Linked DNA regions of Homo sapiens. The protein of the gene in region 2 interacts with the protein of the main gene of each other region in a pairwise test. Each region holds a gene or a part of one and is shown on either strand. Other genes may lie near its edges.

The links.
Region 1: the proteins of RFPL3 (region 2) and RGP1 interact in binary tests that used the Homo sapiens proteins (3 or more experiments, as listed by UniProt).
Region 3: the proteins of RFPL3 (region 2) and EIF1AX interact in binary tests that used the Homo sapiens proteins (3 or more experiments, as listed by UniProt).
Region 4: the proteins of RFPL3 (region 2) and POF1B interact in binary tests that used the Homo sapiens proteins (3 or more experiments, as listed by UniProt).

What each region holds. Positions count from the first base shown.
Region 1 is NC_000009.12:35,743,943-35,752,286, reverse strand, and holds the start of RGP1 (RAB6A-GEF complex partner protein 2), read right to left. Parts: upstream 3,001-8,344; 5' UTR 2,879-3,000; intron 2,551-2,878; 5' UTR 2,532-2,550; coding exon 2,416-2,531; intron 2,045-2,415; coding exon 1,908-2,044; intron 1,630-1,907; coding exon 1,546-1,629; intron 1,448-1,545; coding exon 1,298-1,447; intron 1,022-1,297; coding exon 875-1,021; intron 661-874; coding exon 533-660; intron 332-532; coding exon 142-331; intron 1-141. Other genes in the region: GBA2 (non-lysosomal glucosylceramidase), read left to right, coding at 3,583-3,941, 7,581-7,672, 7,875-7,990. UniProt on the Homo sapiens protein: The RIC1-RGP1 complex acts as a guanine nucleotide exchange factor (GEF), which activates RAB6A by exchanging bound GDP for free GTP and may thereby required for efficient fusion of endosome-derived vesicles with the Golgi compartment.
Region 2 is NC_000022.11:32,353,495-32,361,019, reverse strand, and holds the start of RFPL3 (ret finger protein-like 3), read right to left. Parts: upstream 3,154-7,525; 5' UTR 2,949-3,153; coding exon 2,576-2,948; intron 1,115-2,575; exon of another isoform or gene 769-1,114; coding exon 188-768; 3' UTR 1-187.
Region 3 is NC_000023.11:20,138,558-20,146,063, forward strand, and holds the start of EIF1AX (eukaryotic translation initiation factor 1A, X-chromosomal), read right to left. Parts: upstream 3,282-7,506; 5' UTR 3,084-3,281; coding exon 3,068-3,083; intron 1,888-3,067; exon of another isoform or gene 1,778-1,887; intron 1,679-1,777; exon of another isoform or gene 1,411-1,678; intron 66-1,410; coding exon 1-65. UniProt on the Homo sapiens protein: Component of the 43S pre-initiation complex (43S PIC), which binds to the mRNA cap-proximal region, scans mRNA 5'-untranslated region, and locates the initiation codon. This protein enhances formation of the cap-proximal complex.
Region 4 is NC_000023.11:85,299,567-85,306,912, forward strand, and holds part of POF1B (protein POF1B), read right to left. Parts: intron 6,768-7,346; coding exon 6,615-6,767; intron 6,345-6,614; coding exon 6,225-6,344; intron 4,906-6,224; coding exon 4,777-4,905; intron 3,923-4,776; coding exon 3,840-3,922; intron 1-3,839. UniProt on the Homo sapiens protein: Plays a key role in the organization of epithelial monolayers by regulating the actin cytoskeleton. May be involved in ovary development.

The DNA.
Region 1 (8,344 bases), on a different chromosome or scaffold from region 2:
TCTGAGAAACTGTTCCGGGTCAGAGGCTAGACGTGGGTATGTCTGGGAGTGTGTATAAGGAATCAGGATCCATTACACCCTCCCTTAGCACAGCATTTTACTGTCCCCCTCTCCCTTCTCCAGTAACAGTGAGGGTCTCACCAATGGCTGTACAGAAGCCTGGGGTGGAGCTGAGAGGGATTGGGAGGGAGAAGCTGGTTCTAGTTGTATGTAGGCAGGATTCCTGGTGCCGGGCGTGAGTCACATGTGACACAGAGGGGACACCCCCTGCCCCACGTCGCCGCTGGTACTCAGGCTGTACACGCTCCTCGGTCTGTAAGCTGACTGAAAACTGGGAGCAAGAGACAGGTGTGTGCTAACAGGAAGTGCTGTCTGTAGGTGAGAGGACAGCCCAACCTCAAGCTGTTTTACAAAGGGACCCTGGATGACCCCACTATCCCCTTCTACATGCCACCCCTCTTTATACAGGCCTTCCACCCTAGCCCTTCAACCCCAGCACCCCAGCAGGTAAGAAGCTCTGCTCCCTTCTTACCTGCAAACAAGCTACGGTTCCTTCCCCTAAGTTTAAGGTCCCCACCACGTCCTCGCCAAGTCTGTACACAGATTTGAAGATGCCAAACGTCCCAACTTTCCCTCGGCCATCACTGATATTGTATAGATCTGGGGAGAATAGGACACTATAAGCCTGGAGTCTACATACTGGATAACGTCTAGGACTGGGCACCACAGGCCAAAAGATGGGGCTTTTCTTTAAAATTGGAGGTGTCAGGTATCAGTGGATCCACAGAAGTGTGTGGTGGTTAGGAGACTGTCTCTGAGATGGGAAAACAATGAGGGGAAGGATGGGGTAGGACAATTCTGAAAGAATTCTCACGGAGGCTGCGGCAGGATGTGGCAGCCATTAGGCGTTCCCCAGCCAGCTCAGCTAGCCATGAATCTTTCTTCCCACCTTCATCCTCCTCCAAGAATGGACTGGATGGGGCTACAGCCTCATCCTGGGGAAACCGGACATCCTGAAGGCCTAGAGAAAGAATGAGTGGAGAGGTAATGCTGAGAGGGAACGGAGATGAGAGTAGAGGTTAGGGTTTTAGATTCTAACATGAGATGGCTAAAGGTAAGGGGTGCCAGGGCTGAGGTTTACATCTCTATCTCCAGAACCCTCCCTCCCTTCCCAACTCCCTAGCACTGTCACTGAGACCAGGAAGTTTCCCTGCAGTCCCTCTTGCAAGCCCTCTAAGACAATTTCTGCTTTGGCATCGCCCTTCCCCAGCCCTTCCCTCCAGGAGCCCTTGCTTACCAGTCAGCACAAGAACCCTCAGAGGGACTCTGAGTAAAGTGATAGGGGAGTTGACACGCTGGCAGCCAATGGTCAGTTTGTAGACGTACTTGACTGACTGACCCCGAAAGGAGGGTGGTCCCTCTATGGGCAGCACTTCACTGTAGGAGTCTGGTTGGGAAGTAGTTGTCAGGACAGCCAGAGGCACCAGAGGAGTCCTCCCTCCAGGAGACTTAGAAGGCAATTCAGGGATGGGGACAATCACTCACATGATTTGGACTCTCCAGGATCAAGCCTCAGGTCACAGAATAGAATTTTCGGTGGAGTAGAAAGGATACACTGGCCCCTCTCACCTGAAAAAGGTAAAAATGACTAATTTAATGACCCATTGTCCAGTACTGAACAAGACTAGCACGGCAAGTGGAGATAGTGAAAGGCTGCCAGGCCCTCCGTCCCTGCTGTGAAATGGGAATAGTCTTCTACCCCTAAAGCAATAGTCATGCTCCCCAACATCCCCAGCATGACAGGGACTATAAGAACAAGAACAATTAACAACTTCACCCATGGGTGACAATGCCTCCACACACACCCTCCGCACCCCCCCTCTCCCAGGCAAATGCCCCTCTCTAACCTCGGTGTGGCAGAAAGACAGTCTGGCTGTCGGGCTGGACATCTGGCTGACTAGAGTCAGGAGGAGGCAGTGCTACTCGACTCTCACTGGCATGGAACTGGCAGTGGATTTGGGCACTGGCCCAGGCCAGGGCCTCACTGTGGGAAAAGGAAAAGGAGGCATCAGAGGTAGTTCCTGACCTCACAAATGCTTTCCCAAGCTCCCTATCACACCATCTTAACCAACAAGGTTAGATGGCTGTCCTAGTGATCAGGAAATCCACAATCCCAAAGAGAAACCATTAAATAAAGAGTAGCAGACTGTGCGTAAAAAGGGGAACGGGGGAGGGGAAGGAAAGCGTACAGCTATGTCATCCACATCTTCTGTTAAAGAGCCCTCTCCTACAATGACAGCACAGTGAGCAAGAGGAGGTGGTGTCGCTACAGGACAACCTGAGCTCTGCCTCAGCCCCAGAGATAATCTGGCTTCTTCCCAGAAGGGCCACCACCTTCAGTGCCAGCATCCCCACCTGGATGCAGAAGTGGCCGTGGGCGGAAGGGGGTTGGTGACGGTCACTACACACTCCAGCGCCTCCCCAGCCAAAAATACAGGACCCCGGCTGAGCTCTGCTACCACTTCAATCATGGCAGCTCCGGAATCAGATCTAGAAGGAAACAAGGCGGGGCGGAGGTCAGCACCTTGACAGGGAGGGGCGTTGCGGTGAGCACCTAGGGCTGAGGGCTGAGGACAGGGGTGGTCAGCACCGTGGTGCCCGAGGGAGCTCCTGGATATAGGAGGGGTAGGCGGGTGGGAGGGAGGCGACTGAAGACTCAGTACTGCCCAGGGGGAGGACATCGCTCTGGGCCCTAGACCCCAGCCCCTGTGCGACGGGTTCTTCTCCCTGGGCACCCCCGCGGAGTTCCCAAACTGGCCTCCGCTCCCCCTTTCCTCAAAGTTCCACGTCCCAGCCCAAGATCACCGCCGCTAGTCACCTCGCATAGTCGACACTAGGGATCGGCACCCCTAGGCCTCATCTGCCCGCCCCTCAGGGACCTGGCTAGGTACGCGGCGGCGGCGGCGGCGGCGGCGTCCGCTGGGCGGTAGAGGCGGGACTTCCCTTCGGTCCCCCACCCTCCGCGGAGTCCCTTCCGGCCGGAAGCGCCCGGCAGGCCAGACCGGAAAGGGCTCGGGTCATCCCGGCGCCCAGGGTCACCTTCCCACGGGCTGGCACCTGGGCGCGGGCGCTGCCCCGGAGCCGGCCGGCGGGACCTGGCGCCCAATCCTGGGGGACCCGGTGCCGTGGCCCAGGGGCCGGGCCGAGGTCCCGGGGGCGGTGCCTTGCGGGCCCGTCCCGGGGCGGTGCCTGGTGGGCTGGCCCCGCGGCTCCTCCCCTCTCTGCGGGCCCAGTCGCCCTTTGGCCGGGCGAGCTAATCGTCGGCTCAATGACGACGAGGCCCGACCCTTCCCGTCCAGGACCTACAGAGACAACCGAAGGAGAGCCCAAGGCGGCTTCTTTGCTGTCGCCGCCCCCACTGAAGCAAGAGCTCCCCGGCTCCACTGAAACACCAGCTCATTTAAGCTTTCCCCAACGCCCGGCCCTCCGGGACGATACCTAACAACGACCGGCGCCCGCATCTGGAATAGGCTGGCGAGATACTTAGTATCCGAGGGCTCGGGACTTGGCGCCATCGAGGTCATGGGGACCCAGGATCCAGGGAACATGGGAACCGGCGTCCCAGCCTCGGAGCAGATAAGCTGTGCCAAAGAGGATCCACAAGTTTATTGCCCTGAAGAGACTGGCGGCACCAAGGATGTGCAGGTTACAGACTGTAAGAGTCCCGAAGACAGCCGACCCCCAAAAGAGACGGACTGCTGCAATCCGGAGGACTCTGGGCAGCTGATGGTTTCCTATGAGGGTAAAGCTATGGGCTACCAGGTGCCTCCCTTTGGCTGGCGCATCTGTCTGGCTCATGAGTTTACAGAGAAGAGGAAACCCTTTCAAGCTAACAACGTCTCCCTAAGCAACATGATAAAGCATATAGGCATGGGCTTGAGGTGAGTAGACCCCATTGCCTAGAATGCCTTTGGCTTCACTTTGTTCCAGCTCAAAACTTCTAGCAGAGGTGGGAAAGGGCAAGAAAGCAGTTGGGCTTCTTGTCTGAGTGAAGCGGTCCCTATCCCTGGCATATTTTAGGCCTGTGGTTTTGGACCGTGAGACCAGGTCACATCTCTTTGCAACACCCTTCCCTCCCAGTGTTTTGTCTTTTCAGAAGGAAAGGGTAGGAACATTTGGTCATGCAATCAGCCTTTCCCATTCAGGCTCTTCTCACATACTGGTTTCCAATGACTTCCCTTTGGGATTAGCTATACTTTGTGGCAAGGTAGGAAAGGATAATCTGGCTGCTGTGATACTAACACAATGTTGTTTTATTTGGGGGTGGGGGGGTCTCAACCCCTTATTTCCCACAAGCAGCTGGGGCATTCTCTGTACCTCATTAGACACACTGTTAGAGTCCCAACACTACTGCTTCTTTCTTCAAGCTTTAGCTCCAGGGAGTAGGTAAGAAGAGCCTCCCTGCCCTCACCTCTGAAGTGATGAGAAGGTGCTGTCATTCTGTTCTGGGATAGAGAGCTCTTGATATTAAGTCATTTATCAGAGAGGCACTGCCATAGATGTAGAACCCATCTAGATCCCCACTGAGTTCAAAGACTAGTGATGAGGAGCCAGACCCATTAACAGGAACAGGTGGATGTGAGGACAGAAAGCATCACCCTGAGGTCATCCTGACTCAGTCTACACAATACACACAGAACTGTGGAGGGAGGCATAAAGCTTGGGAAACCCTGCCCTTACAGTTTCTAGAGTAGGAGACCCTTCATTTCCCCAGTCAGTGCTGTGGGGCTGTGATGGGGAGATCAGTTATCTAACCCTAGCCCTGGGGAGTGGGAAGGGCCTGATGCTGCCTGCACATCTGGCTTTGTTGGTGCCTGTGGGTAGCCTGTAGCAGAGAAGAATCATCCCTCCAGGCTGCTTCTGGAATCAATTCAGTCCAAGTTTGACCCCAAAAGTTTTTGCATCAAAATAGGATCTAGTGTACATAGAGAAGTACACTGAGTTGCATGTGGTAGGAACAATGAGATCAAGAAAAGATGGGCATCCTAGCCTCTTAGCCCTTAAATATGAACTGAGTCATAGAGGCCTGAAGCTGTGCTCAACCCCCTGGACCCTGGCTCCCCATTCCAGGATAGAGTGGGGGGTACTGATACAAGGCTTTTGGAATAGGATGAGTTCCTATGAGGAGAAAGCACAGGTGAGACAAGAATTCTAAGTGATAACTCTTGAGTTGAGGTTGAAATTGTGGAGAAGGCCAAATAGGTCAGGAATGGCCAGCTACCATATTAAGGGAGTAAGAGAGCTCCTAAGATGGAGCTGAACTGTGGGCACTCTGACCAGGAGCTCTAGCAAGACAGAATTCTCTGGGTCTTACCTTCGTAAGAACTCAATTTCAATTGTTCTCCCTTCCAGCCAGAGTCCACTCATTCAATAAATATTTATTGAGTGCTTGTTCCATGCCAGATAGTCCTTTGTTCTGTCTGTCCTCATAGATTGCAGTTACTCTCCCTGGTTGCCCTAATCCTCGGCCACACCCTCCCTCTACCAGTCCTTTCTGGTCTCTAGTTTCAAAGTCCGGTTTTCTCTAAGCTGGCAGAGAGGATTCTCTGCCTTCCTGTCATCCCATCCTTTGTCTTCCCTCTTCTTTCCACCCCTAGAATGTGCTGTCCCTTTTTATTTTATTATTATTTTTTTTTTGAGACAGTCTTGCTCTTGTCACCCAGGCTGGAGTACAATGGTGCAATCTCAGCTCAGTGCAACCTCCGTCTCCTGGGTTCAAGCGATTCTCCTGCCTCAGCCTCCTGAGTAGCTGGGATTGCAGGTGCCTGCCACCACAGCTGGCTAATGTTTTTGTATTTTTAGTAGAGACGGGGTTTCACCACATTGGCCAGGCTGGTCTTGAACTCCTGACCTCACGTGATCCGCCCACCTCGGCCTCTCAAAGTGCTGGGATTACAGGTGTGAGCCACCGTGCCTGGCCGCTGTCCCTATTCATTAATCACATTTCTTCTCCTCTGCTCCAGTCTGTTATCTCTCTTGTGCCCCATCATTTGTATGTTCATTCATCTGTAAAATTGGCAAATATGCATTGACTGCAGACCATATGTCCTACCCTGTGCTTGGACCTGAGGGTAATATTCAGCTAGTCTTTGTCATTGTCCCTTTCCCCAAGGAACTTAAAAGTATGTCAGCCTCACATGAGGAACATTGAAATAACAAGGCAATGTCTGATTAGGAATTGAGATAACAGTTTGTATATATGAGTAATAATCATACCTGTACTTTATGGCTTTCTTATCTATTATGTCATTTGATCTTTCAACCATTTCATTAGATAGCTAGAGCAGGTGGTATCCCCATTTTGTAGATGAGGAAACTGGGACTTAGGGGTTACTTACCCAATTATTTGGTTAGAAGTGGTGTGACTGAACAGTAGGCATAATGTGGCAGTAGGCAGGAGAGTGGAAATGGGAAAGAGTCTGGCAGGGCAGGGGCTACTTAGTGAGGACCCATCTGGAATGAGAATTTGTAGGAAATAAGATTAGAAGATAGGCTGGGACAGATGTCAGAGCCTTGAAAACAGAATCGTTTGCCTATTGAAAACAGCCTCAATCATTTGCCTCTTGGATATAGGGCTGTACCAAGCCCAGGAAAATGTTGGGATTTTTTGAAGGCTTTACCAAGAGCAAAATCAGAAAGCTTCACAGTTTAAATGTTGAATTTAAAAAAAAAAAAAAAAAAGGCTTGAGAGGAAATGTCCAGAAATAAATATAAACACTGATTGTCTATGGGTGAGATTATTTTTTTCCCCCTTTCACCTTTCATAATTAGAAAGAAAAATGATCATTTTAAAAAGAAGAAAGGCCAGAAGCGGTAGCTCACGCCTCTAATCCCAGCACTTTGGGAGGCCGAGGCGGGCGGATCACCTGAGGTCAGGAGTTCAAGACCAGCCTGGCTAACATGGTGAAACCCCATCTCTACTAAAAACACAAAAAAATGTGCCAGGCATGGTGGCGGGCACCTGTAATCCCAGCTACTTGGGAGGCTGAGGCAGAAGAATTTCTTGAACTTGGGAGGCGGAGTTTGCAGTGAGCCAAGACCGAGCCACTGCACTCCAGCCTGGACAACAAGGAACGAAACTCTGTCTCAAAAAAAAAATAATAAATAATAAAAATAAAGATAAGAAAGTTATTCCCAGCAGCCTATGCCTGTTTTGGAGGTAGGGGATTGGGGGCGGAGGCTGTAGGCCAGGAAACCATAAATGGTCCTTTCAGCACGTCAGACAGAAGCTCCTGATGTTGGAAATAAAGCAGTGGTGGTGGTGCTAGAGAGGTAAGGAGAGATCAGAAAGCCCCTTCTGAGGAGAACAAAGGAGAGAAACAAAGCCACTCCTTCACTTCAGCTGGGGTGACTGGGAAGATGAAGGGACCTTGAACTGTATAGAAATCAAGAGGAAGAAAGGTTTGAAAGCAGATGTCCTTGGGACATTTAATGGGAGGTCACAGAGAGAGGCAGGTGACTCAGCCTGTGAACAGCTGCCCACCTGCCCCCTTCCACTCACATTGCCTCTTGCTCCTCAGGTACCTGCAGTGGTGGTACCGGAAGACCCATGTGGAAAAGAAGACACCTTTCATCGACATGATCAATTCTGTACCCCTAAGACAGATTTATGGTGAGCCCCACCCCATCTCTGCTCTGCTCAGAGAAGGCCTAGCCTCCAGGTCTACCACAGTTAGGAAGAGACTTCCAGCTTATGCAAATTGCACTGTTCCATCCCCTAGGTTTTCAGAGGAACCAGGCTTTATAGTCTAGAAAGTTAGAAATGGGCTTATTTTCCTCTCCCAATACCCCACTAACCACCCTGATTTCTCTAGGTTGTCCCTTGGGTGGCATCGGGGGAGGCACTATTACCCGTGGCTGGAGAGGCCAGTTCTGTCGTTGGCAGCTTAACCCTGGAATGTATCAGCACCGGACAGTCATCGCTGACCAAGTAAGAGCCAGGAGGTGGAGAGGCCAGGACAATACCTCCCCAGGCCAAGAAGGAAGGACCTCTTGGCTAGTGTAGAAGGTAGCAGTTAGATGTGAATAAGATTCAATCTAATAAGTACTCTCGGGATGCTTCCTGTGTGCCCAGCCCTGAGCTAGGATATACCGTAGGAATAAGACACACACAAGCACACATTCCTTGAAAGAGTAAACAGATCTGGCATTTCTCTAGTAAATGCCTCCTGTCTACCTCACTGCCCCAACCCAACTAGCTGAGGCAGCCCCCAACCACAGAGAATGCAGAGAATTCCCAAATCACTTAACCTGCCTGAAAGAACATTTTGTAGGACTGGAAGGG
Region 2 (7,525 bases):
CTCAATGAGTTGGATGGTGGCAATAATTAATACTTACGACTCAATAATCGAATCAAATTAGAATATAGATTATAGAAATGTCCCATATCTTTCTCCTATGACTGTATAATGCTTTTACCAAGTAGAAAATTCCTAAGTCTACCCACCCAAGTAATTTTCTGACCCTGTTTTTTTTTGCAGTGGCGGCTTATTTGGCCTCCCCAGGACGGACTGGAGCATCAGTAGTGCCTGAGTTCATCAAAGGACAGATGCTCAAGACACCTTGATCACCATTAGGTGGAATTGAAGGAGCCAAAAATGGGCGCAGTGGCTCCTCAGCAGAGACGCTCCTGAATGTATAGACATGGGAACCACTTTCAGCATCAAAAAAGGAAACGTTCTGCATGCCCATATCCAGAAAAATCCCCACTCGCTGTAACTTGCGGTCTACTAAGAGGAAAGTCAGCGGCACCGTGCTGGCAGAGAGGCGGCTTCCATCCCTCAAACTCACAGTCCAGAATCCAAGCTCTGTGGTCAGCTGGATCTTCCCTTTGCAGTGAACAGATTCTCTGCAGACTCCCAGGTCCCATTCTGTGCTTGTTCCCACGTCCACCTCCCAGTAGTGGCGGCCACAGGTAAAGCGAGGGGAGCCCAGGATGCAAACGGACACGTCAAATCTCTCGGCAAGGTCTTGCCGATTCTGTGTGATGAGCCCACTTCGGACGCTCCTGAGGTCGTCAGAAATGAGGAGGAAGTTGTTGGCTGTGTCGGCATCCAAGGTCATATCCACTGTGAAAAGGAAAACAAGTTGCTCAGCAAGTGGACAGAAGCCAACCCCATGCCTCTCTTCTACTTCAAAGGCCCAAATATCTCCTGACTTTAGTTTCTTTAATTCTGTTTCTTCCTCCAAAATCAAAACTTTTCATGAGGAAACTTCCCTATTTCAAATTTTCATAGGTATGCTTTGTGGCAATACGTGACTCTTATTCACAGTAGCAATTCTTATTTTACTTTACGTCACGTGTTTGCTTCACTGAACTTTTCTTCATTTAGAGTGGAGGGTCTCTGAAGGCAGACACCATGCCCCCCTTTCTACCACCTTGATGTGTGAACAAATAAATGATAATTAAGACAATGCAAGTGGTCAATATTAAATATGTTTCTGCTTCCACATTTTATTGCTCCAATTCAGTATATAGAGCATGATTCCAGGCTTTTGTTTTCCATGTTTGTAAACAAATTAATTGTGCACAGTTCTGACAGCAGATAGGGTATCTCTGCAGCTGACAATGTGATGACAGAGATGCTGGTCCTGGACATTAGGAGGCTCTAAGGCCAGGTGGAGGAGGGGGACCTTTTAGATGAAAGAATGTTTTCTATCCTACATGGAAGGTGAGACCTTAAGCAAAACAATGGTAAATTTTGGAGCCAAGAGAAAGGTATTTGAAAGTTGTCTGTCATAACTGACTGATTGTAGAGAATAAGGGCAGAAAATACAAAGGTCAATAATTTAAGGCATTGGGTATGTGACTGACAGGTGAAGCCGCCAATTCTCATGGAGGAGGCAGTGTGATCTGGCCTAGAGAAAATTAATTGTCCAGAACATTCTGAAAAAAAAAAATCTACAAAATATATTATCCTTCAAGTCAAAAAACTGATATGATCACTAATATAGATTTTATAGATCACAGTAAGACTACCCTAGTCAAGACTAGGGATTGATTGCTATTTAATGGTGAATTAGGGAATGGACATGGACAAGGAAGGAGGAAGAGGGTTCCAAACATGACTTGGACAGGGTGAATCTCTGTCCTCCATAGTTCAGCAGAGAGACAGTCAGGTATGGGTAGATGGATGAGTAGAGATCATGGGTGTCAGGGCAGAAGCTACCAGTGTCAGGGACATTATAGGGGCCCACCACCATTTATAGGTGTAATTCTTTGCCCAGGCTGACCATAACCTTTTCATTTAAATGTCCCTTTTCCCCAGAGTTATGGAGAGTGATAGTATTTTCTGTAGCCAGGACCACTGTTGGAGCCCATGGCGCATGGATGAGGAGACCAATATCTGCAACTCTCCCCACTCACAGAAACAAACACCATAGGTGCTCCATTCCCAACTCTTCTCAACCCTGGGGTGAGGTTGTTTGGTACAATGGGTGCCAATATTCACTGTGCATTAGAAATACCAGGCCCATCTTAATGTCAGATTCATGGGAACCTTTGCTAGAGAGAAATTCAAATTCAGTTGCTCTATGTTTTTGCTACTCAGCAAAGTCCCCAAGCCAGCGGGATCAATCCTGAGACTTCCCAGTTCAGCATCTGCATTTTAACAAGATCCCCAGGTAATCTGAGCACACTAAGTTTAGAGAATCCCTTGTCTAACCCATGACATAGACATCGGGTTTTTGTTTGTTTTTGTTTTTGACATCACCAGGTGATTCTATGTGTTGTCAGGGCTGAGAATGTGATGATGAAGCATCTCAATTTTAGGTGCCAGACAGCAGCTAATCCCCATGTGGAATGAGGGGCCAACTGCACAGATGATTTTTCCTGGTCTGGTCTTGGGAAGGGGGCAGGGTATACAGATTCCTTACCTTGGAACTTCCGCATCCTTGGGTTCATCTGTAGAATCTTCTTCAGCTTGGGCTCCAGTTCCTTGATGTGGGAAACCAGCCTCTCTAGCTGCCGATTGGGCCTGATTTTGTTCCTCTGAGAGACCATGGAACAGCAACAGCAAAGCAGATCCTCCCCATGGGGCTCCTTCTGCAGCGAATTGATGCACTTGAGGCAGACGGTGCATCCACACTCCAGGGACATTGGTTTTTCCAGATAGTCTGAGCAGACGGGACAGCTGCTTGCTTCTTGGAAGAGTGCAGCCATGTCCACTGCCAGGGGAAAAGTACACAAGGGAAGAAAATTTCCTTGAGGTGAAAGCCTGTTAGTTGTGACAAGTGACAACCTTTTCATGCATAGAGGTATTGTGTTCCAGCTTTGTCACTCCGAGAACAAGACCATGAGTACAAACACTCAAGCACATCCCCCCACCCCCCGTCCTCAGAGATTTGAAGTTCTATTGGGAAAGTCACGAATCATCACTGTGCTCTGAGCTGAGGTGGAGGAAGGGTCCATTCTCCTGGTGACCCAGCAGCTGAGCCTGAGCCAGTGACGTGGCAGCACCCATGTGAGGAACAGCGAGCTGGGGTCATTTCACCACCTCCTAGGGGAACCCCAGCAAGAGACTGATTGATGAACATAAGAATTAGGAGCTGAGAGGCTGGGCACGATGGCTCATGCCTGTAATCCCAGCACTTCGGGAGGCCAAGGTGGGTGGATCATCTGAGGTCATCAAAAGTTCGAGACCAGCCTGATGGGTGAAACCCCATCTCTACTGAAAATACAAAAGAATTAGCCAGGCGTGGTGGCACACGCCTGTAATCCCAGATACTTGGGAGGCTTTGGCAGGAGAATCGCTTGAACCTGGGAGGCAGAAGTTGCACTGAGCCAAGATTGTGCCATTGCACTCCGGCCTGGGCAACAGAGTGAGACACCATCTCAAAAAAAAAAAAGGGGGCTGGATGCAGTAGCTCACATCTGTAATCCCAGCACTTTGCGAGGCCAAGGCAGGAAGATCCCTTGAGCCCAGGAATTTGAGACGAGTCTGGACAACACAGGAAGACCTCATCTCTACAAACAATACAAAAATTAGCAGTGAGCAGAGACCACGCCAGGTCACTCCAACCTGGACAACACAGTAAGACCCTGTCTCACCAAAAGAAAAGAAAAGAAAAAAAATTACATCCTTCTCCAGCCTTGGAAATGAATACCAAATTAACTGCCACCACTGGTGGGCAGGGGACAGGCTCGGAGGTTCCCTGAATGACAGAGAGTTGTTTTAGGAACCTCATGTCACACCCTTCTGAGACACTGTGGACCATGTCTGAGGGGTCCTACACTGGCACTGAGGGGGCCTGACCCCTCTTCATACACTGAGGTCAGGGGGCTCCCAGGTACACAACAGGATGCTGACCTCCTGCCGCTCGCCCACCCACAGGCCAGCCCAAGGCCACCCCCTTGGTCACTCTGTTCCCGTCCTCCTCTGAGGAGCTCCAAGCCAAAAGGCCACACTGCTGTGTCTCATGAGTGGCTTCTACCCGGGAGCTGTGACGGTGGCCTGGAAGGCAAACAGCACCCCTGTCACCCAGGGTACGGAAGTCACCAAGACCTCCAAACAGAGCAACAAGCACACAGCCAGAAGCGACCTGAGCCTGACACCCGACCAGTGGAGGTCCTGCAGCAGCTACAGCTGTAAGGTCACACACAAGAGAGCACTGTGGAGAAGACAGTGGCCCCTGAAGAATGTTCTTAGGTCCCTGACCCTCACCCCACCCATGGGGGCCTGGAGCTGCAGGATCCCAGAACAGAGATCCCCTCCCACCCCAAATCATCCAGCCCCTCTCCTTGTACCAGTAAACCCTTAATAAATATCCTCACCGTCAACCAGAAATCCTGCTCCCTCTCTTCATTTCTTAGCTAACATATAATTTGACACTCACCCTGGGTTCTTAGTGTGTGTAAGGGGGGATTACTTGCACCCTGTTGGATAGCAGCCCGGGGGAGAGGCTCCCAGACTCCCAGGGGTGTCTCCTGAGGAAACAGGCCAGGCCAGGCATTTGATCACTGAACACCTCTCTCTCCATTCTCTCTCCCCACCTCTTCCTCCTTGCAGCTTGGCCCCCAATTGCTGACTACTTCCTGGATGAAGCTGTCCCTAGCTGAGCCTTAAGACGCACCCTCTGTCCCTACCCTAGTCAAGACCCTCTACCCACCCACAGCCTCTGTTTCTTTAGCCTTGAAATCCTACTCTGGGCCTGGAGCTCCCTGGCCCCTGGAATGCCCTCTTTTCTCTCTGCCCAGCTCCCCAGCCCTGAGAGCCAGGCTGTCCAGGACACTGTTGCATCGTCAAATTCATGAGGTCTTACATTTGGGGCCCGCCTCAATTCTTCACCTTACAGCAGGTTCAGAGATGGAAAAAAAAATGGGAGGAAGCCAGGAAGGAAACACACACAAAAGGCCAGCAGGTGGCTCAGGATGCTTGTGAAAGGTAGTATCCCAGCTGTGCAGGAAGCAGTGCAAGGAGGGTAATAGGTGTTCCCTTATTTCTATGAGAATATGCAAAGCATTTGCTCAAGGAGAGTTGGTTTTCTCAGTGTTGAAGCCAGCCATCTTTTCTTTTCTTTCTTTTTTTTTTTTTTTTTTTGAGACAAAGTCTCGCTGTGTCACCAGGCTGGAGTGTAGTGGCACAATCTTGGCTCACTGCAACCTCTGCCTCCCAGGTTCAAGCGATTCTCCTGCCAAAGCCAGGCATCTTTTCACGACTAAAAGCAAGTACCTGTCTTAACCAAGGCCTCAATATTGATGGGATTTGGTCTCTGACACATGCACAGGTGACCTGTGCACCTAGGGCTGCCTGGCAGCTCTAGGAAATGGCAATTCTGTCAGGTACTTGGCACAGAAAGTCACTGGCCTTCTTTGGAGGATGCATCATTTATGGAAACACTTCTTTATTGGATCCTGGGTCTCGGGTGGAAAACCAGGTCCCACATCAGGACTTTCTCTGTGAGGCTCCCAGGTTCTGGGGCTCCAGCTGCTGTCTGAGAGGAAGGTGTGGAGACAGAGAACATAGCCTAGAAGAGCCTGGAACTGAGACTTCCCCTTACCGAGGTTATGCAAATGAGGTTCTTGGACTACATATTCTGATTGGATGAGAAGAAAAACCTCTAGATCTACTCTGATTGGGCTTTATTTGCATGTTCTGATTGGATGAGAGCAAGTCTTAGGACAACCAATCAGAACATGATAACAAAGTCCAATCAGAGTAGGCCTAGAGGTTTTCCTCATCCAATCAGAACATGTAGCCCAGGAACTTCATTTGCATAAATTCTCATATATAAATGATGCCAAGTGGGGGGAGTTTTGTCATTCCAAGCTCTCCTGCGTCAGCTTGTGTAGCTGGTTAGTACTGGCTTAGAGGAAAAAGAAAACGAGTCACTTCCTGAGCACACTGGAGTCTGGAAGCTTAGAGGAAAAGGAGGAGGAGCAACTTCATTAGCACAGTGGAGGCTGGAGCCTGCCGTGGCTCACCTCGCTGCTGCCGTTGGTGCGGGCCAGGGAGACTAGAGCGCAGCCAGAATGGTAAAATGGTGGTGGGAAAAGTTCGCCATCCCAGGCCGTACTGCCTGTGGCGTGGCGTGGTGGGGTGGGTTGGAGGCCCTATCCAGGGCGTTACTGCCCGTGTTAGGAGGCTGGTTGGATGTGGTATCTGGGGCCTCACTGCCCACAGAGGGGAGTGGGTTGGGGGTGCTATCGGGTGTGCGCTGCCCGTGGCTGGGGGTGGGTTGGAGCACTATCCCAAGCTGTACTGCTAGCGGCAGTGGGGAGTTCTGGGGGCACTATCTGGGGATGCAGTGGCCGTGGCCGGCGGGCGAGTTGGAAGAACTATCGGGTGTTGCATTGCCCTTGTCAGGCACGGGTTGGGGGCGCTATCGGGTGCTACTCTGCCTGCGGTGGGCGGGACGTGTTATATCCAGGGCATCATTGCCTGCGTCTAGAAGCTGGCTGGGGGCATTATCCATAGCTGCACTGCCCACAGCAGGGAGCAGGTTGGCAGCACTATCTGGGGCTGCAGTGCTGTGGTGGGGGACGGGTTAGGCTCATTACAGGGTGCTACACTGTTGGCAGCAGGGAGGGGGGTGTTGAGGGCGCTTTCTGGGGCCTACACTGAGACAGAGATAGCAGGATTTATTGGGAGTGCTACTGGGGGCCAGACTGCCCGTGTAGAGGGGGTGGGAGGCTGGTTGGGGGCGCTATTGAGGGACGTATCCACTGCCCGTTTTGGGAGGGGGCGGGTTGGGTGCTATCAGAGGTCTGTACTGCGTGCCAGGGAGCTGGTGGGTGTGCTACCTGGGGCCACATTGGTTCCGGCGGGGCGGGTTGGGTGCGCTATCGGGGGCTACCTTGCCCGCGCAGGGGGTGGGTTGGGTGCGCTATCTGTGGCTGTACTGCCGGAGGCAGGGAGTGAGTTGGGGCGTCTCCCTGGGTTGCTGCTCCCAGTGGGGAGCAGGTTGGGGCACTATCCGGGGTTGCACTTCCCGCAGTTGGGGGGCGGTTTGGGTGCCATATCAGGGCATTACTGCCCCCAGCAGGGGTCTGGTTGGGGGCACTATTCGTGGCTACACTGTGTACGGCAGGGAGCGGATTGGGGGCGCTATCCCGGGCTGCACTGCCCGCGGCAGGGGGCGGGTTCTGGGCGCCATTGGGTGCTGCAGTGTCCGAAGCAAGGGCAGGTTGGGGTCGCCATTGGATGCTACACTGCCGGTGGTTGGGGGTGAGGTGTTGGAGGCGCTATCTGGGGGCTACACTGCCGGCGGCGGGTTAGGGGTGCTGTTGGGGGCTGCGCTGCCCCCCTGGTGCTGGTGGTGTCAGTGACGGGTGGTCAGAGGAGCGGTCCTCGTCTCCCCGGACTCCAGACTCTAGAGGGCCATCTC
Region 3 (7,506 bases), on a different chromosome or scaffold from region 2:
TACCAGTTCTCTTTTTTCAGATTCATTCTCATTCTTACCCCTGCGTCTGTTTTTACCTCCTTTACCTGATGGTTTAAAAAAAAGAAAAGGAGGTAAATGACATTAATTATCTGTAAAACAGTATGAAATAAAATGAAATTAAGGCTTATAAAACCATTTTTTAAAAGATCACTTAAATTAAAAAATTCATCTATTTTAGCTACACAATCATATTAAATTTACAATCTCCAATCCCAACATTAACACATTATCACCTCCCTACCCTTCTTGGAATTTCCTTTGGGGATTTTTCTGACATAAAATACACATAAATAGCAGATATTATGTTAAAAAATATAGAAAAACATTTCACTTTAGCACCCATCCTTTTGAAATAAAAATGCAATTCTATACATATTCTTCTAAGCGGAAATCTTGGGTGTCTTCTAAAGCCAGGCCCTATGCAAGGAACCCGATACTTTCAAAATTAAGTGAAGACAGTGTCTGGACAGAGAACTGTGGTTTTCAAACTTTTGGTAGCAGAGTACCATAAATATTGAAATCTCACTGGGTGCAGTGGTGTGCGCCTAGGGTCTCAGCTACTCAGGAGGCTCAGGTGGGAGGATCACTTGAGCAAGCCCAGGAGGTTCCAGGCTAGCCTGGGCAACATAGCGAGACACTGTCTCTTAAAAAATAAAGAAGATCTGTTCGGTACCCAATTTACTTTCTTTTATAATGCTGGTCCCTACTCAACATCCCTGTTTCTATTATATGACCCCAGTGACCATGCTCTTAACCACTATGCAATAATTCTGCCCATTTACTTGTCACAATCACCCCATGAGGTCATAACATTCATTTATTCCCAGTTTACCCATGAGTTCCCTGAAGCTCAGAGAAGTTAAGTAAGTCGCTTAGCTTCAGTGAGTAAATCAGTTCACTGATTACAGTCAGTAAGCTGGGGTGACCAAAGTCACAATGTTTTTTTTGCCCCTAGCCCCCACATAAGCTTACCTCTCCACAGCATTTTGCTCCCATTCCAGAAAGGAAACCACATTGGCAGCCATTTCCAAAAGGCAGGAAAAAGGCTGTAAGTGGTAATGACCCTAAGAGACTCATGGGAAGAGCTTGGAAGCAGCAAAAAAAAATGGAGGACACTTAAATTAGGTCATGAAAAGTACCATTCCTCTAAGTAAGATAACTAAGAACTGATTGGTTTCAGACAGTACAGGAATGATAAACACCAAACTCAGCCTGGTGATTACCTCCAAAAAGAGAGTAAAAGGTGATTAGGGCTTTACCTCAATCTGCGCTGTAATTCTTAAATTCAGAGTAATGGGTTCCCAGGTATATCATGTTAGCTGTATTTTTTGTATGCCTCAAATGTTATTTAAGAAAAGACTAATTACTTGTCAATTTACCAGAATTAACCATACCCGGATCACTCCCCTTTGTATTTTATTGCCATGTAATGGGATGTTCTTTAAATTCTCTGTTGAATGAATGAGACTAGGTCTGAGTGTACAACAATTAAAGTGACATCAACATTCTTTAAACCAGAGTTGTTTTGGAGAAATTCCCAGAGAGGCTCTTTCTTAAGACATGAGGCTAGGGAACTAGATGTGATTTAGTGTAGAAGTCCTATCCCCTTGGAACCAAAGCAGAACCTATTATTCACTAAGGGTGGAGTCGACAGGAGGTAGGTGACTTAAACCAACAAATATTTATTAAGCATCTACTAATTGTCAAGTGCTGGCAATCCAATGAGATTAAGACAGATACTATTCCTGCCTTGTAGAGCTTACAGCCTGGTGGAAGAATTGGAAATCTTATTACTAGAAATAAAGGTGAGAATAAGATGGAAGTGATCCCCTTACCACCTCAGAGAGAATAAAGGATTATACAGAAGAAAACTGTAAGACTTTAAAATTTTTTGTTTATAACTCCATCTTTTCCAAAATAATGAGCAGTGACTGCACCAACTTGTGCACAGAACACCTCGACCAAGTACCCTAAGGGATAAAGTAATAAGTGACAGCTACAAAGAGGAAATGTGGTAGAATCCCTGGAGCCAGCTGTCAAGTAGAAAAGAGAGCAGAAGTAGGCCTGTGTCAGGGGAGGGTTTCCTCTAGAATGAATAATCAAAGGAGACTACTTACGGACTATGAAGTATGCTCCTCTCCTGTAGGAAAATACAGTATTTTCCCTATATTTACTTGCACAATTTTCTTCAAGTTATACGGCTATTAAAAATGACAGGAACACTGTAAATCTATAAAAGTAATTTCTTTAGGAGTGTTCTGTTTTTTGTTTTTGTTTTTTTTTTTTTAAGATTAGGCCTTCCGTTTTGGAAATCCCAAATAAAGTTATCCTCAAGTCTGATCATTTGTGAACGCTTAGCCTCAGAATGGAGGACACTTAAATTAGGTCTTTATTCTCACAACATATGCATCATCTGAAGCAAAAGTAGAAAACTTGGCTCAATATGGAATAAGTCTTCAGCAAACAAACATAAGCTATATCCTGTAAAGGGATGGAGAGAGTAAATCTCTAGAGGTGAGCCTTAGAAATGTATCAAGGTTTCACCCACTGTTCACAAGGGACAGCGAGTAGCCTCAACAATACTGAACTGTCCATAAAGAAACCCATGCAGGAGTACCTGGTGCTCACGAATGCAGACAGCACTCTGAAAGTTCAGAACGGCTTCCAGGGATTATAACCCCTCATGCCCGGGAAGGCCAAAGGGGCCTATCTACTAAACCTAGGCCGCCCCGGGGAAGGTTCCCGCCACCGTCCCCACCGAGCAGCGGTCAGTCTGGCGCGAATCAGGAGCAAAAGCCCACATTCTCCCGCAGGAGGCCCTACAAAAATGGCGCCGGCTCCACCCCAATGTGACCAAACTGGGCAACAGGAGTTAACTTCCCAGCTCCTCTCCCGAGCTCAGAGTCGCGTGTGGGGCGCCCAGCCGCGGGCAGGCAGGGCGGGAAGGAAAAAGGGTCACTGCGGCCTGGGTGACCTGCAATCTACGGGCAGGACCTGGGAGACCCGGCCGAGCAGAGCCGTGGTCCGGGGGTCCGGGCGGCATTACCTTTATTCTTGGGCATGGCGGTGGCGGCGACCTCGCGGCGTCTCTGACTTCTTTCCGGGTAGCGGCGACCGCGGCGGCTGCTGCTCCGAGGGGCGACACGAGGGAGCGCGCGGGACCAAGTAGGTGCTGGAGGCCAGGCAACGTGCGCGGGAGAGGCTGGCGACCCAGCTCTTCAGAGATCCGCCTGCGTCCACGCTCGGCGGCAGCAAATGGCGCCGCGACTCTTTGCGTCGCTTTTCCCCGCCTCCCGTCGCCGGCTGGGCCCGCCCCCAGGCTTTATGACGCAGGCGTGGCCGACTGACTCCTATTGTTAGAGCCGAGGGAGACGCGTTGTGGGAGGGTGCGCAGCAAGCCAGAGAGGACGCGAGGGGCAGGGCCTCAAGCAGGGAAAAGGCGGAGTCAGGGAGGGAGGGGGAGAGACTCTGCGTCATAGAAAAGGGCGGGTTGAGGTGGCGCTTGCTGCTGGTTAAGACCAGACCTCTGCTGCTTTGTAGCAAACGCGCGTCTCCCGGTTTCACAAGTGGCTGACTCGTTAACCTCGTGGTTAGCTCAGTTTTTAAAAAATATGTATATTTTTATTTTTATTTTATTTTTTGAGACGGAGTCTTGCTCTAGAGTCGCCCAGGCTGGAGTGCAGTGGCGCGATCTCGGCTCACTGCAACCTCTGCCGCCCGGGTTCAAGCGATTCTCCTGCCTCGGCCTCCGGAGTAGCCGGGATTACAGGCACGTGCCGCCACGCCCGTCTAATTTTTGTGTTTTTAGTAGAGACGGGGTTTCAGCATCTTGGCTAGGCTGGTCTTGAACTCCTGACCACGTGATCCATCCGTCTCGGCCTCCCAAAGTGCTGGGATTACAGGCGTGAGCCACCGCGCCCGGCCAATATTTTAATTTTTTTATTAAGATGGAGTCTTGCTCTATCGCCCAGGCTGGAGTGCAGTGGCGCGATCACGGCTCACTACAACCTCCGCCTCCCGGGCTCAAGCGATTCTCCTGCCTCAGCCTCCCGAGTAGCTGGGATTACAGGCATGTGCCACCATGCCCAGGTAATTTTAGTACTTTTAGTTGAGACGGGGTTTCACCATGTTGGCCAGGCTGGTCTCGAACTCGTGACCTCAACTCGCGCCCACCTCGGCCTCCCAAAGTGCTGGGATTACAGGCGTCAGCCACCGTGCCCAGCCGGTTAGCTCATAACGCAGTCCTTTCACTCGCCCAGCCGGGTTGGGAGCCTGATGGGAAGGGCAAGGCTTTCCTGGCATCCATTACCAAAGCATAATATTTGCATGGCACTTGTTATTACTCTTTAAGTCTGTCTGTCCTACCTCACTGTAAACCTTACCGGGCAGAGACCATGTTTGTTGCTTACCATTACCCCCACTTAGCTGAATGTCTGGCACATAATAGGTGTTCAATACACACAGAAAGGAAGGGAGGGAGGGGAGAAAAGACTTAAGCTCAATGTTAATGGGCTGAATTGTGTCCCCCCCAAAATTCGTATGTTCACGTTCTAATCCCCAGTAACTCAATGTGACTGTATTTGGACATAAGTTCTTCAAAGACGTGATTAAATTGAAATGAGGTCATTAGTGTGGACCCTTATCTGACTGGTGTCCTTACAAGAAGATATTATTAGGCCACAGGCATAGAGGGAGAACACCACGTGAACAAGAAGGTAGCCATCTATAAGCCCAGGAGAGAGGCCAACCCTGTTGACGCTTGATTTTAGACTTTCAGTCTCCAGAACAATGAGAAAATAAATTTCTGTTGTTTAAGCCACTCAGTACGTGGTACTTTGTTATGACAGTCCTAGCAAACTAATACAGCTGGCTAATGCTGGGCTGTACTCTACAAGATTTATTTCTAAGTAAACTTATTTTGACTAAACCAAGTAAACTTATTTTAAATAAATCACCTTTCCACAAACACCAGGGTTTGCACATACTTAGAAGACAGAAATAAAGTATCATCATCTAATATAGTGGTTCTTTTCTGTGAACATTTGGCAGCGTCAACCAGAAATGTTTCTGGTTGTCATAACTTGAGGAGGGGGGCAGTGATGCTGGCATCTAGTGGGCAGAGGCCAGGGATGCGGCTAAACATCCTACAGTGCACAGTACAATCTCCCCTCCCCCATACAAGCAAACAATTATCCAGCCCAAAACATCAGCAGAGCTGATATTGAGAAACCCAATGACAGATGCACTTCTTAGAGTGAAATTGAAAGATAATGGGGGACTCAAAGTTCTGGGTTTCTCTTTCTATCTGCAATATTTTTCAATTTACATAATTGAGGATGAAAGGATTTTTTATGAAATTTATTTAAATTTTGCTCCAAGGTCAAATAATTATGAACTTGAGCTTTGGAGTTAGAGAGGCCTGGGTTCAAATTCAAGCTCTGCAGTAACTTATTACTCTATTTTCTTGGGCAAGTTTTAATCTCTTTACAAGCTTCCGTTTTCTCATCTGTAAATTGGATGTAGGAATAGTACTAACCGGCCAGGCGCAGTGGCTCACACCTATAATCCCAGCACTTTGGGAGGCCGAAGTGGGCGAATCACCTGAGGTCAGGAGTTCGAGACCAGCCTGGCCAAAATGGTGAAACCCCATCTCTACTCAAAAATTCAAAAATTAGCCGGGTATGGTGGCAGGCGCCTATAGTCCCAGCCACTTGGGAGACTGAGGCAGGAGAATCACTTGAACCCAGGAGGCGGAGGTTGCAGTGAGCCAAGATCGCGCCACTGCACTCCAGCCTGGGCAACAAGAGTGAAACTCCATCTCCAACAAACAAACGAACAAAAAAAAAGAAAAAAAAAAGAATAGTACTTACATTAGGTTGTTGCAGGAATTAAATTGATATAATGCATTCAATTAGCAATTGTGCCTAGTACATGGTAAGTAGTTAGACTCTAAGAGTCCGGAACTCTAAATGTTTAAAAATAAAAAGTTTCTGTCAATTACCCAGTATAAAACCTCAAAGAGGAAAAAAAAATATCAGGCTTCATTTCTCTACTGTAGGATGGTTCCCCCATCTGACTGATCATCTTAATCACTTGGAAGGAAGTGAGTCAGGTGGACATCTGGGGGAAATGTGTTCTAGGCAGAGAGAACAGCAAGGGCAAAGGCCCTGAGTGGAAGCATGCTTGGTATATTCAGGAAACAGCAAGAAGCCAGGTGCAGTGGCTTCCACCTGTAATCCCAGTGACTCAGGAGGCTGAGATGGGAAGATCGAGCTTGAGGCCAGTAGTTCGAGACCAGCCCAGGCAACATAGCGAGACCCACCCCCCCATCTCTAAAATAATAAACACACGACAGTAAAAAAAGCCAGGCATGGTAGTTCACATCTGTAGTCCCAGCTACTTGGGAGGCTGAGGCAGGAGGATCCTTAGAGCCCAGGAGTTTGAGGATGCAATGAGCTATGATCGTGCCACTGCATTTCAGCCTGGGCAACAGAGTGAGACCCCATGAAAGAAAGAAGGAAAGGAGGAAGGAGGGAAGGACATAAATGAAGGAAAGGAAAGAAGGAAGGAAGGAAGAAAAGAAAGGTCAGTGTGGCTAGAATGCATTGAGCCAAGGGAAGAATTTGAAGAGATGAGATTGGAGAAGTAAGGAGGCCAGATCACTTGAATCTTCAGTAGGTTTTTTTTTTTTTTTTTTTTTTTTTTTTTGAGACAGAGTCTCGCTCTGTTGCCCAGGCTGGAGTGCAGTGGCGCGATCTTGGCTCACTGCAACCTCCGCCCCCTAGGTTCAAGTGATTCACCTGCCTCAGCCTCCCTTAGTAGCTGGGACTACAGGTGTGCGCTACCGTGCCTGGCTAATTTTTGTATTTTTAGTAGAGACGGGGTTTCGCCATGTTGGCCAGGCTGTTCTCGAACTGCTGACCTCAAGTGATCCACCCGCTTTGGCCTCCCAAAGGGCTGGGATTACAGGCATGAGCCACTGCGCCCGGCCTTTCAGTAGGTTTTTAAATAGATCATTTTGGTTTCTGTGTTAAGAACAGACTGTAGGGGGCAAGGGTGGAAATGGAAACCACACGGGAGGCTACTGTAACAGTCCGAACGAAAGACAGTTGTGGCTTGGACTAGGGTATAAAGTTTCTTTTTAGGATGGTGAGAATGTTCTAAAATTACATTATAATAATGGTTGCACAACTCTGTAAGTACTATACTAAAAGACATTAAATTGCTGGGTGCGGTGGCTCACACCTGTAATCCCAGCACTCTGGGAGGCCGAGGCGGGTGGATCACAAGGTCAGGAGTTCGAGACCAGCCTGGCCAATATGGTGAAACCCCGTCTCTACTAAAAAATACAAAAATTAGCCGTACGTGGTGGTGTGCACCTGTAGTCCCAGCTACTTGGGAGGCTGAGGAGGGAGAATCACTGGAACCCATGAGCTGAGATCGTGCCACTGCATTCCAGGCTGGGCAAGAGTGAGACACTGTCTC
Region 4 (7,346 bases), on a different chromosome or scaffold from region 2:
CGTGAGCCACCGCGCCCAGCCTCCACCTCCTGTTTTCACACCATTCTCCTACCTCAGCCTCCCGAGTAGCTGGGACTACAGGTGCCCGCCACCACGCCTGGCTAATTTTTTTTTTGTATTTTTAGTAGAGACGGGGTTTCACCATGTTAGCCAGGATGGTCTCAATCTCCTGACCTCGTGATCCATCCACCTCGGCCTCCCAAAGTGCTGGGATTACAGGCGTGAGCCACCGCGCCCGACCCTTAAAACAATCTGGGTAAAACCCAGGAGCCTGGCAGCAACTAGAAGACAAAACAAGGTTAGAGCTCCTTCAAAGCCACATTGTCGTTATAATTGTCATTGTTTGATTTGTCTGTTGATTCTGTGGAAAACTCCACTTGCAAGGATGCCTTTTAAAACTTGACTCGTAGCTCAACCAATTTGCAAATCCTTTTTCCTGGGAACATTTGTCGAAAATAATGTGTGGAAATTGTTTAATATCACAACTACCTGAGGTGGCTATAATAGTTCAGGCAGACAAGAAATTGACCAAAAATGATAAAAGGAAAAACTGAGAAATAAATTGTCCATAGTGGGCTTTGAAAATTTGTTATATGTTCCTGGGAATCTAGAAAGCCACAGGCATGTGTAGGGCTTTGTACATGCCCAAGGCTGTACGCATGTGAAGGAAAGACCTGAGAAAATCCTGAGCCCTCAGTACTGGCTAACCTTAAAACTCTGTGTAAGCAGGAACTGGGGGCTAAGGACGAGCTATAAATTGCCTACCAGAACATTGAAGAGGTGTCCAAACACAGACAAAGAGCCTCTCAGTGAAAACTAGGAGACTTACTAGTTTCATGTTTGTAACGAAACCTCTGTTTAAATGTTAACTGACCACTAAGATAAATGAGCAGAGACTTCAGTGACCACATATGAAAAGAATACAGACTTTATAGAATTAAATCAGAAAAGCCACTAAGCAAAAGACAATAACATCAACAGCAAATAATAGCAACAATGAACACCTTGGCAGGAGGGAGTATCTAATTTCCAGAGTTACCACATTATATTATTTTCAATGTCACGTTTTCAATAAAAAATTATAAGACATGCAAAGAAACAAGAAAATATTGCCTATCATGGAAAAAATCACTTGAAACTATCCATTAAGAAGCCAGATGTTGCATTTACATAGCCTTTAAATTGGCTATTTTAAGTATGCTCAAAGAACTAAAGAACTAAAGGAAAGGATGAGAGTTGTGGCTTATGGAATAAAGAACATTATTAAAGAAAGAGAAATTACTTTTAAGAGAAACTACAGTAATTCTGAGGTAAAAAAGATAATAACTAGATTTAAATTTCTCAACAGCCGATGTAAGCAAATGGAAGAAAGAATCAACAAATTGCAAAGAAGGTCCGTTGAGTTTATCTATTCTGAGGAACAGAAAGAAAAAAGAATGAAGAAAAATAAACAGAGCCTCAGAACATTCTGTTCTGTTTATGGGGACTCCACAAGGAGAGGGAGGAAAGTGGCAGGAATGATAGCTGAAGAAATGTCTGAAAACTTCCCAGATTTGATTAAAAATATCAATCTGCACATCAAAGAAGCTCAGCAAATGCCAAATAGTGAAAAATAAGAGATCCAAACCTTGACACATAATAATCAAACAGTCAAGGGCCATAGAAAAAAATAATCTTGAAAGCAGTAAAAAAGAAACATGTCAGGGGGATCCTCAATTAAAAATTATCAACTGATTTCTCATCAGAAATTATAGAGGCCAGAAGGCAATGGGATGACATATTCCAAGTAACAAAAAAACACTGTCAGCTGAGAATTATTTTATCCAGCAAAACCATTCTTCAAAAATGAAGGAAAAGCAATATATTCCCATACAAGCAAAAACCCAAAGAATTTGTCACTGCAAAACCTGTTCTACAAGAAATACTAAAGGGAGTCCTACAAGAAATACTAAAGGAGTCCTTCAGGCTGAAATTTAAGGACTCTATACAGCATCCCAAATCCATTTGAAGAAATAAAGATCACCAGTAAAGGTAACTATACAGGTAAATATTAATTAAATTTCTGGGGGAAACCTAAGGGGAAAAACTCAGAAAATATAGTAAAAGTAACTAAAATGGAATTAAAATGTTACTGTAGAAAATATTTTACACAGAAGAAGGCAGGAATGGAGGAACAGAAGAACAAAAAACATAAGACATAGAAACAAATAGCAAAATAGCTAATGTAAATTCTAACTTATGAATTACATTAAATGTAAGTGCATTAAATATTCCAGCTAAAAGCAGAGATTGGCAGAATGTATAAAAAGATACAACCATGTGTGGTTTACAAGAGTCACAGTTTAGAATCAAATACACAAATAGGTCAAAAATGAAAGGACAGAAAAAGATATTTCATACAATTAGTAACCAGAAGACAGTTTATATTAATATAAGACAAAATACTTATGAATGTAAAATTTATGATCTTGGGTTAGTCAACAGTTTCTTGTATATAATACCAAAAGCACAAGCAAGAAAAAATATAGATGAATTGGATTTTTTTCTATATTAAATACTTATGCTGCATATTATACTCTCAAGATAGTGAAAAGACAACCCATGGAATTGATGAAAATATTTGCAAATCTTGTCTCTGATAAGGGACTTGTGAACATGTGAAAATCTCTTGCAATTCAACTATAAAAAGACAACTCACTTAAAAAATGGAAAAAAATTGAATGGACATTTCTTCAAACAAGATGTATAAATGGCCAATAAGCACATAAAAATTGCTAAAAAACATTAGTTATTAGGGAATACAAATCAAAACTCCAATTGGATACCACTTTCCACCACCTAGGATGGCCATAATCCAAGAGATGAACAATAACAAATGGCAACGAGGATGGGGAGAAAGTGGAACCGTCATACACTACTAGGAATGTATGATGGTGCTTTTGCTTTAGAAAACAGTATGGCAATTCCTTAAGCATAGAGTTATCATGTGACCTATCAATTCCACTCCTAGGTATATACTCAAAAGAAATGAATACATGTACCTTACACACTTGTACACAGACGTTCACAGCAGCATTATTCACAATAGCCAAAAATTGAAAACAACCCAAATGTCCAACTGATTAATCAATAAATAAAATGTATATCCATACAACTGGATATTATTTAGCAACCAAAAGGAATGAAGTCTTGACTCATGCTAAATCATGCTTGCATCCTGCAAACATTATGCAAAATGAAAAATCCAGACACAAAAGACTATATGTTGTATTATTTCATTTATATGAAATATCCAAAATAGACTTCTGCTGAAGCTATTCATAATTACTTTATATTTGGTTTTGCTAAATGGCTGGAATGTAATTTGTGGTCATATTGCTACCGTGAGGGTAGACCTTACCTGATTAAGATGTCTACACAGGAAAGAGCAGAGCCAAGATATAAAGAAAGACATATTTATAAAGGCATATTTTGAACACACAAATCCATCTGGATACCAAGTAACCCCATTTAAGTGAATTTAAAAAGTCCCAGTTTACATTGGGTCTCTTGTCACATGAAACAGAAAGAGTCCTAACTAATGTGGTTGGTTAAAAAAACAATTATTTGTTTTTCACTTCCAAGGTAATTAATATATTGTAAATTCAGGAAAGATGTGCTTCAGGATTTTTTTGACCACAATAGTGATGTCTTTTTGTGAATATTCATTCTTCAGTAGAATAACTGGCCAGCAGAAAACACCAAACTCTGTCTAGCTTGTATATACCAATTAAACATGAAATAACTTGGATTATATGATCATAATTTTTATATTCAAATTTCATTTAAAAATACATTACTTTTTAGTGGTAATAGTAGTCCTTCCACCAGTGGAGGGTTGGTTATGAGAGGAATATATTTCTTGCCGCAACTTGGAGAGTTCCTTACAAATAAAAGATAATATAATCATTTGATGGAAAGTAGAAACATGAGATAATAAATATATTTAATCATTTAGAAGGGTTACTAACAATGATTATACCCCCTCCCTTTTACCCCTTTTTAGCCTTGACGTAATAATGTTCTAATCCCACTTGTTGAATATCACCTAGTGTTGCTTCACAGTACCTAATAAGTTATATTATATGCCGGTGCAGGAACCTGCAACTGATACAGGATATCTAAATTTGGAGGATAACTTGAGATTGAATGGGCGTGGTTCTCAGGATGAGGATGTGAAAGTTTTTGCTCTGAAAAGCCTGAAAAGTATATCCATAGAAGAAAAGTATTGAAACTTCAATATATAAGCAGATATAGTTTCTTAAGAGAGAGTTTATCAATGAATGTTACTACAAGCACCATTTGCTCCATAACAGCAATACAATATTACCCATAATTTTTGACAATTCCTTCAGTACCTATTGAATGCCAGGTCATGGGCTACATGCTACAGATACAAGGAGGAATATAACACATGCTTTAATGAAGCAGCTCATAATGTAGTAAGGAGGTCACAGTCTACTGGGAATTTCACTGCTAATGAAATATAAAATCAATGTCTTAAAAATATTAAATGTATAACAGCACTTATTTTTTGCTTCAATTGTAACTTTCATTTGAATTGTGTCTCCTGAAATATGTATATTCTACTTCCTCACTTGCACCTACATTTTATTTCATTAAATAAAGTGACTCTTGGATATGTGTCCTTTTCTAGTCCATGGGAAGTATTTATCCTACAGTACTACAGTACTAAGTTGTATTACTTTTCTCCATCCCCACCCCTTCCTTTTATACCTCTGACTGACGCTTTATGAGGGAATCCTTCTCTTCCAGCAAGCTTGTCAGTTCATGAAGCTTAAATTGGAAGTCACTACAACTTCCTTCTCTCTTTGAAACATCTTTATGGTACTGGTTTAATTGGGACTAAGGATTTAAAAAGAAATAAATATTATTATAATCTTCATATAGAAAATGTGTAACTGAGTTCCAGGGAGGTTAAGTGACACAAACTCACACAGTTATGAAATGAAAGTAAAATACCAATAGTCATAAACGTTCGAAGAATTTCATGAGTATGTAATATGAAATGAAATGCCAATTACAAATTTCTCCTTTTTTTAAGGTGTCTTTGCTATGTAGGACTAAACATTATCTACGTAACAGTCTTAGGCCACAAAATTTAAAGTAAAGCTAAGAAAACAGGCACTTTAGAGTCCTTGAAATAATAATTAAGGAAATAGCAATAACAAATTACTACTATTATATTCTGATTTTCAGTTCACAAAATATTCCTCCTGCATGAATTATCTCAGTTCTCACAGCAGTCCCATGAAATAAGCATTATTATAATCTTCATTTACAAAACAGATAATGGGCTCCAGAGAGGTTAAATGACACAGTCACGCAGTAACATAGCTGCAACTCCAAAACAGGTCTTCTGACTACAAATCTTGTCCATTTCCCTCTTTACCTCATATGTGTGTAGCTTAGGTAGAAGTGCTGTTAGTAATGTTGGAATGGAAAAGAAATCAGTGGAGGAAATCTGCTAGAAGTATTGGTAGGTTTGGAAAACAAATTATATTTTGTTTCATTTTGATTTTTGGTAAAAATTATACAGTGATGTTTGGAGAGACAAATTTGTGATTATTTTGTTTATTAAAATATTTAAGTATATTTTACTACCTTTAGGAATCAGTAAAATAAGGGTTAGATTAAGTAAATTCAACCTAGAATTACAAGTTAAGGCAATATATACTTATAAATATCACCTTAATTTTGATGTCAACTATAGGTACCTAAAACTTAACACTGTTTTCCTCCTCATGCTTGACAAAGTCCTTGCTATTCATCATCCCTCGAAATTAAGTGAGAATTTTTACAAATCTAACTATGGCTCTGTTGAGTAATTTCATATATTGCTTTTGCCTACATAAGCATGCTTTAGGCAAGATCATGAAGAGTCCTCCATCTATCCCAAAAAATAAATTAATAAAAACCAAAACCAAACCACTGAAATGAATATCTTCTTTTACTTTCCTAGAAGAAATTAAGCTAAATTAGAAAATCATTTAACAGTTATATTTTAGATACAGTAATGTATTTAAAACAAATGAATACATGACATATTTCTAAAACTCTACCTTCAGCTAATTTTTTCTGGTAGCTTTAAACTTGAAGCCATCATTATCTTGCTAGAAAGTTTGTGCTGACCTGTGTATTTATGCAATGTAGGATCAACATACCCTCAGTCTGCAGATCTCTCTATCTTTCTCCATTCTCAAGTTTTTTACCATCTCCGTGTAGTGGTTGCCAATCTCATCCATTTTAGCCTGCAACATTGGGCCTGTGCAAGTCTCAGAAACCTACAGAAGGCAAAATAACTATCTGTAATTGGATTGTTTTGAAGAAAATACATGTTATGTTACAAGGATTGTTATTAGATGAAAACCACATGATTAAATAAGACATTGAAATAATGAAAGTGATTTTCAGGAACTGCATTATAAAGCTCAAATGTCAGTGATTAAGATCTAACAGTATGTGAGGGAAAGCAGTCCATATGTTTTCTAAATGCTAGGATTACAATGATGTAACTAAGGTAATACTGTATATTTAAAAGGAAGTTTTAATACCTGCATTCTAAGGTTTTGATTCTCTTGCTCTAAATTACGTTTACAATATTCCAGTTCTTTTAGTCTGTATTCCATGTCTGATAGTGTATGTCGAAGAGAGAGATTGTTTTCTTCCAATGCCTGGCATTTTGAACTTGAGTCTTGAAGTCCTTGCTGTAAAGAAGACACAAGTACATAAGACAAATGCATTTTGTTTTTGGTGAGGGAGTGTTCTTTTTATTGATTCATTCAATTGAATCAAGTAAATATTTTCCTATGCCCAGTTTTCTTATACTCTGGGTCTTAGATGGTACATTAAGTCACCCATGTAAGATATTATAGTGTTGCCTCTAGTCTCACTCATCTATTTTGTGAGAGAGGGAATCATGACTAGATGAATTTATAATGTCTCAATTTAACAATCAGACTCTTGCTACTCTGTGACAATACTGTACCCTGCTTTCTAGTAGGCACAGAAACGACCATATGCCTGATTATTTACATGACAACTAGTAACTGAGCAAGAATTTGGGACAGCCATAGGAGTAAAGATCAGGAAGAGGGTAATCCTTAGAGACTACTTACAATTTCCTAGGAATTCTCTCTGCTCAGACATCCAGAGAATTCATCTAGAGTTTTTTCAGTCATTTATTTATTGCACAAACATGTATTAAGGTCTACAACAGCTTTTCTCATTGACATGTTAGTACATTAAATAAATGCATGAACCTAGATTTTTAGTATTTCTACAAT